Linked DNA regions of Homo sapiens. The protein of the gene in region 1 interacts with the protein of each later gene in a biochemical or structural test. Each region holds a gene or a part of one and is shown in the gene's direction. Other genes may lie near its edges.

What was found.
Region 2: the proteins of POU1F1 (region 1) and PPARG form a complex in vitro, tested with the Homo sapiens proteins (one study listed by BioGRID).

The regions. Positions count from the first base shown.
Region 1 is NC_000003.12:87,270,085-87,273,584, reverse strand, and holds part of POU1F1 (pituitary-specific positive transcription factor 1), read left to right. Parts: intron 1-88; coding exon of another isoform or gene 89-166; coding exon 167-238; intron 239-3,500. UniProt on the Homo sapiens protein: Transcription factor involved in the specification of the lactotrope, somatotrope, and thyrotrope phenotypes in the developing anterior pituitary. Specifically binds to the consensus sequence 5'-TAAAT-3'. Activates growth hormone and prolactin genes.
Region 2 is NC_000003.12:12,379,570-12,383,069, forward strand, and holds part of PPARG (peroxisome proliferator-activated receptor gamma), read left to right. Parts: intron 1-134; coding exon of another isoform or gene 135-142; coding exon 143-362; intron 363-1,752; coding exon 1,753-1,922; intron 1,923-3,500. UniProt on the Homo sapiens protein: Nuclear receptor that binds peroxisome proliferators such as hypolipidemic drugs and fatty acids.

The DNA.
Region 1 (3,500 bases):
TATTGGCATGTAACTTTAAGAACCACATAAATGTGTATTTTTGAAATAAAACGAATGTGTCTTGAATCCTTATACATTTTCTTACCAGTCCCATCTATTTTGTCTTTGATCCAAACTCCTAAATGTTTGTGCACACATTTCTCGGTGACAACGTTGGGAAACACAGCAACAGGACTTCATTATTCTGTTCCTTCCTGTCATTATGGAAACCAGCCATCAACCTATGGAGTGATGGCAGGTAAGAAAAGTTGTCTTTTACATGTTATTGAATTTGGGGACACTTAGATGGATTTTCTGGGCCTGAAAGAATTGTGATCAGAGTGTGACATGAAATTTGATTTCTTAACTTTGAAAATTACTGTTAAAAATCACCACTTCTTGTTTCCTGCTCTGTGACACCCACAGAGACCATAGGGGTTATACCTAATTTCCCTACTTACGTATCTCTGAACTGCTGTGCTTCTTGAGTTTGCTTTGTATGGTTTTTATTGAAATTCACTATCGTCAAACTGTTAGTTGTAACATGATGCTATTGGTAGGCTTACCTTCACTAAAAATATAGTAGCTACTAGACACGTGTGGCTATTTAAATTTAAATGTAAACTAGGTAAAATAAAACAAGATTTCAAATTCAGTTTCTCAGTTGCACTTGCTACATTTCAAGTGCTCTATAACCACATGTGGCTAGCGACTCCCATATCAGACAGCACAGGTTTACAGAACACCCCCCCTCATCATTATATTTCTTCTGGACCTTTGGTCCATAAACATAAATAAGACATTGATTGAAGCTAAGAGTGATTGGTAGGGGCTTTAGTGATAGCTGTTTCAGGCTTTAGCAGCCCTTTCTGAATTGCTTCTGAGTGAGTCTTAAGTGAGATTGAAATCATTGAAGTTACATACTTTTCTCCTATAGGTAAGTGAAGTATGACTGTATCAATTATGGCTACCTGCTTATTGATCCTTCTATAAAGGCATTGAAGCACAGTTTTTGAGGAATGCGTAGATCTGGCTTATGAGATCTATTCATCAAAAATTCTTGTTTAATTTCATGGCATGGCCACATAAGATTTTAATTGTTTTTAAAAAGTACACAGTTTTATTATGCGCAGGATTTTCATTTGTTGGTTTATTTTTAAGATAGCTTTAGGAGATATACCTAACGCTAAATGACAAGTTAATGGGTGCAGCGCACCAGCATGGCGCATGTATACATATGTAACTAACCTGCACATTGTACACATGTACCCTAAAACTTAAAGTATAATAATAATAAAAGAAAAGAAAAGAAATTCTTTGATATTTTATCTTTATTACTACAGCAGGAAAAGAATTCTTATTGATGACAAACTGTGTGAGTAAATGTGTGTGTGCGTGTGCATGGTGTGTGTGTATGTGTGTGATACTGAGGGAAAAACTGTGGATAAAGGAATCACTTATTAGGGAAATCTTTTCTAATTGACTTGTGTTTTGTTATGATACAGATAAGCAGTAAAAAAAAAAAACCGCAGACAAATATTGATTTATTCCTATAATTTTCAAGTAAAATGGAGCAAATAGTTTAATTTTAATTAAATTGTTTAACCTTTGATATCTCAAAATTTGTCCATGTAAGACTAAATAGAACATTAAAACTTTAAAATAATAATCCAGAAAAATATGAGCTTCTCCTACATTCTATCAAGCAACATTCTGAATAAACCAGTATCCTAACATTTATGGTTAAATGAAGACTGGTGTTCTTAACAATGACCTGTAAATCCTGACGTCTTTTTTTAAAAATTAAGAATTAAAGCCATATTTTTTCTTCCTCTCTGAAAATTGATTATTTATGATCAACATGCTTAATTAGTATTCATGGTTAATGAGAATAGCCCTCCTCAATGATGAACTACTGTCATTATAAAATAGTAAAATAAATGCGTTTAGCTACTGGAGGTGCGGGTGGATTGCTTTCTGTGGCCTTTACAGCATTTTGATTATGAGACAGGAAATGACAAACACATGCCACTGTTTCCTGGAGGAAAGACCTTACAGTTCATTTAGAGGAACTCCCAGGAACCAAGGTACATTGTTAGTTTCTCTCTTAACCCAGCACAGAGGCAGTCCCTGCCAGTTGATTGAGGTTGGCACCAAGATTAAAACCAGTCACAGAGCAGGGGCCAATAATCTCTGGCCCAAATACCTTCAGATAATTTTTGCTACCAACTCCCACCCTGCCTAATCAGAGAGGGCCACCACTGGCCTCGGGAGTTTGCAGCTGGCCTCAGAATTCTAACACCCTTACTGCTTCCAGGACTGGAGCCAATATGCCAATGTTCACATTGAGAGTGTTGGCAGCTCATGTCTTTCTGATACAAGTTTCCTCCAGCATGAACTCAGCAAACCCTCTTCCACGAACCTCTTCCTCATTTCAATTAAAATGTAAAGACCCCTGGAAGAGCCTTTCAAAATGATTCAAAACCCTGTCTTAGTGACATCAAGAGCAGAAGACTTACACCAAGGTCTGGAGCTATCACTGTGGTCTTAAGATTAAATATATTCTGTGACTGAAAGAAAAACTCACCATCACAAGCACAAAGATATTTGAATATTTTTGAGAGGGATTGTTAAATCCCTCTCAAAAATTTTGTTAAAATGTGATATGCTTTAAATGTCAGAATGTCTATATTGGGACATAATTCAGTATTAGCATTTGCTTCATGAGAGATTAGATCTTAGAGAATCTGAACTCTCCTGACTTTATCCCCAGTAAAGCTGCATAAATTGAGTTACAAAATACAGCAATTCAGAAATAAGAGAGAAAAGGTAAATAAGAGACAAATGTATAAAGTACACAATAGAAACCTTATTATGTCATCTGAATTTTCTGAGAAGTCTTAAGTCATTAATCAAATCAGCCCCTTGCACACAATCCACAGAAGTGTCTTAACAACAACAACGACACGGTGTCACATACTCTATATAAAAGTGAAGCTACAGGAAGAACTATATTTCTAAAATATGTGAAATTACTTTATTTTCATATGGTTATTTCATTACTCATACTCTGATGCTTACATTTAGTTTGAGCATTTCATTAAATTAATAACTCACAGGAAAAGAAGAGCTATAACTAATATTTTGTCAGGTTGGTAGGTAGAATTTTAATGATCAGATGAATCCACTGTACGTAATAGTCCAGGTGCAGGCAAAATAAAGAGAATGACTAATTGGGAGTAATGAATTATCCATGCCATTAACTAATTACTAACATTGTTCAAGTGATTAACACCTCTGAGTTCCAATCTCTTCATATCTACGTTGTGGTGGGTACTACAACTCTACTGGGGTTGAGTAGTAGCAAATTTGTGTCAGCTCAAAATGATTTCTCTTTTGCCCTTCTCTTCACGTACTCTTGCAGCTAAATTCCTTCTGTCCTTTCACTCCTGAGAACTTAGAGAATTCAAATCAACACCTTACAGTACAAATAATAGAAAACCTAGAATTACAGATGCTGT
Region 2 (3,500 bases), about 75 Mb from region 1:
TTCTTTTCTGTTGTTGTGAGCGCCCAGATGAGATTACTTTGCCAAAGACTCTTTTCATTTCTCTTTCTGAAACTCTGTGAGATTGCTGTGTTCTCTAGGACTTAACTTCACAGCTAGTCTATTTTTCCTTTCAGAAATGACCATGGTTGACACAGAGATGCCATTCTGGCCCACCAACTTTGGGATCAGCTCCGTGGATCTCTCCGTAATGGAAGACCACTCCCACTCCTTTGATATCAAGCCCTTCACTACTGTTGACTTCTCCAGCATTTCTACTCCACATTACGAAGACATTCCATTCACAAGAACAGATCCAGTGGTTGCAGATTACAAGTATGACCTGAAACTTCAAGAGTACCAAAGTATGATGTTTATTTTCACTTTTCAGACTACTAGGACTAGAATTGGACTCATCTCTCAGTAACCCTGTAATAAATAATGCTCCAGAGACTAGAAATCTAATAGAGAAGGCATTCACCATTCATTTATTCACCCATTTATCCATGAAATATTAGGTATCTATGAAATGCCAGGAAGGGAGCTGGCACGAGGTCAATCTTGCCTTCCCCGCCCCCTCCTTCCTTCCTCTCTTCTTTCCTTTCTTGCTTACTTCCTTCTTAGGGACATTTTCTACCTTGATTACACTGTCAGTTGTATCTCAGGCTAAGAGTCCATCATCCAAACTTTGAATTATTTTGGCCCCTTATAAGTTAATAAGTAACAATTCCAAGTCACTTTGTATTATATAACTTATCTTCACTATATTACTGCTACTACAGTACATTTTTTCTAGTATGTCCTTTCAGGAGTTTATACTGAAACCTACTTTTAAGCACAAATTTGTTTTAACATTGTAGCCTATTGATAAATTTTCATGCCATTAACTAAATCAACATCAAAACATCAGACTCAAGAAAAACTAGAACTGCACTTTTTGAGATAAAATGTATTTCTGTGATGCTATTTCCTTGATTTTTATCATGTGTGGGCTGACATGCTGGTTTTCCAAAGCCACCACTATGTAATTGGCAATCATTACTTGACAAGTAAGAACTTCCTGTATTTCTAGTGGCTTTTAAAGATAAATAATATGCTTAGTTATATTTATCTATGCGGTTTTCAGTTAGAGCCTAATATGGAAATTTAGTAGCCCTGAGCCCAACTAGTAAAAGGTAGGGCTTACTTCCATAAGTTCCGCCACGCTCTGTCAAAGATTATTTCACAAACCACCTCCTTTGACTGAACACTAATGGTAACCTGGGCTCATATTTTTCATGCACCTCAAGCTAGGCATACCATGACCTTTTCACAGTGGTGTTCCTTCTGTGGTTCTTTTGCAAGTTGTTTCAAAGTACTTATAAAATGGAATATTTAAATAAAATGTATAATTTAATATTGTGATGAATACCAAAGACAGAACATTTCCTAGCAAAATAAGCTTCCTTGTCTCAAATCCTCTATGTTGTCTGTTACAGCTGTAGTATTGCAGGCTACTGGGGGTCATAGAACCACAGACTTAATTCTCATTCCCATTTTATATTTACAGGTGAGGCTTAGAGATGTTATAACTTGCCTGTGATTACAAACCTTTCTTTTTCTTGCCTTAACTCCAGTGTTTTTTCATGTTCCACTGTGCTTTTACACTGAAACAATACAAATACAGCATGAAGGTGTACTATGGTGGCTTGCCCTGTTGCCTTTTTAGGACTGTTTTCATGGGATAATTATCCTCTCACATGTCTCCATACACAGGTGCAATCAAAGTGGAGCCTGCATCTCCACCTTATTATTCTGAGAAGACTCAGCTCTACAATAAGCCTCATGAAGAGCCTTCCAACTCCCTCATGGCAATTGAATGTCGTGTCTGTGGAGATAAAGCTTCTGGATTTCACTATGGAGTTCATGCTTGTGAAGGATGCAAGGTAATTAAAAAAAAAGTCTTCAAAGAAATTGTTGAAACTTTATTATTTCATTTCAGCAGAACCCCTTTTTTAGGTGATACAATATATGAATTTTTTTTCTTCATGGAAGAGTATCTTGCTCTGTCACCCAGACCAGAGTGCAGTGGTGCTATCCTAGCACACTGCAGCCTTGAGCTTCTGGGCTCAAGTGATCCTCCCACCTCAGCCTCCCAAAGGATGATATAAGATTTGAAAGCCTAAGAAAGTGGATAAAAGTTGGGCTGCTTTGCCCCACATTTGTTTCTCCAAATTGATTCTTTGAGACACTGATCTAATTTAATCCTTGCATCTTGCAGATTTTTACAAAAAGGTGACTTCTCCAAGGTGTCATGGCAAGACAGTGATGACCTGGAACCAGGATGCAGATTTCCTGCATTCTCTAGTTGTTTATTTATTTATTTATTTATTTATTTTGCTATACCGTGTAATATTGTATAGACAGAAGATTTTACAGATTATTTATATATGCATATCTTTGGATCCCTAGAGCAATCCTATAAGATTGGACTTCTTTATGGCCACATTGCAGATGTAGAAATTACAGGTTAGTAAAACTTGCCAAGGTCATCCCTTAGTAAGTGGCAGACCGCAGTCTAGACCCTGACTCCTTAGGTGGTGTTGGCTCTCAAAGCAGTGCCTCATGTTTCCTTATTCCAGCATCAATGTGAGCCACATACACGGACAGGTAAGGAGGTATAACAGTGTGGGAAAGGAGATACTATTTATCCTCATCTCTTTCCTTTGTGAAAAGGGTATTTTGGAAAATTCAGACGTTTAGTAATTTATTGCTTAATTATTAAGAAAATATGTGAATCCACTCATATTTTGATATGCAGTCTTTTAAGATAATTTTAATATACACAATGCAAAAATAGTACTAATTTATTATATACGCATTGCACAGAATAAACTGTTCATAAATATTCACTTTATAAAATAAATACCTGCTTATTGGGCTTTTTATTCAACGTAAAGATACAGAACAACAGTTAGGAAAGTTTTAGGACATCTTGGTTCCTAAATGGATGGTGGGCCAAAAAAGGAAACTGATTTTTATTGAATTCTTACTACATGCCAAATACTGTATGAGGTAACGTTTTCATACATCAGTATTTAACCACATCCTACCCAGGTTTTCTCATCTATAAAATGATTGTGGCTGAGTGTGGTGGCTCACGCCTCTAATCCCAACACTTTGGGAGGCCAAGGCAGGAGGATCACTTGAGCCCAGGGGTTCAAGACCAGTCTGGGCAGCATAGTGAGACCCCATCCCTACAAAATTTTTAAAAAATTAACCAGGCATGGTGGCACATGCCTGTAGTCCTAGCTTCTTGGGAGGTTTAGGTAAGAGGATCCCTTGATCCCAGAAGTTCAAGGCTGCAGTGAGCTATGATCATACCACTGCACTCCAGCCTGGGTCACAAAAGCAAGACCCTAACTCCAAAAATAAATAAATAAATAAGTAAATAAATAAAATGACACTGAATTACATGATCTCTAAAGTCCCTTCAATTGAAACAGTTTTTACTCTAAAGGCAA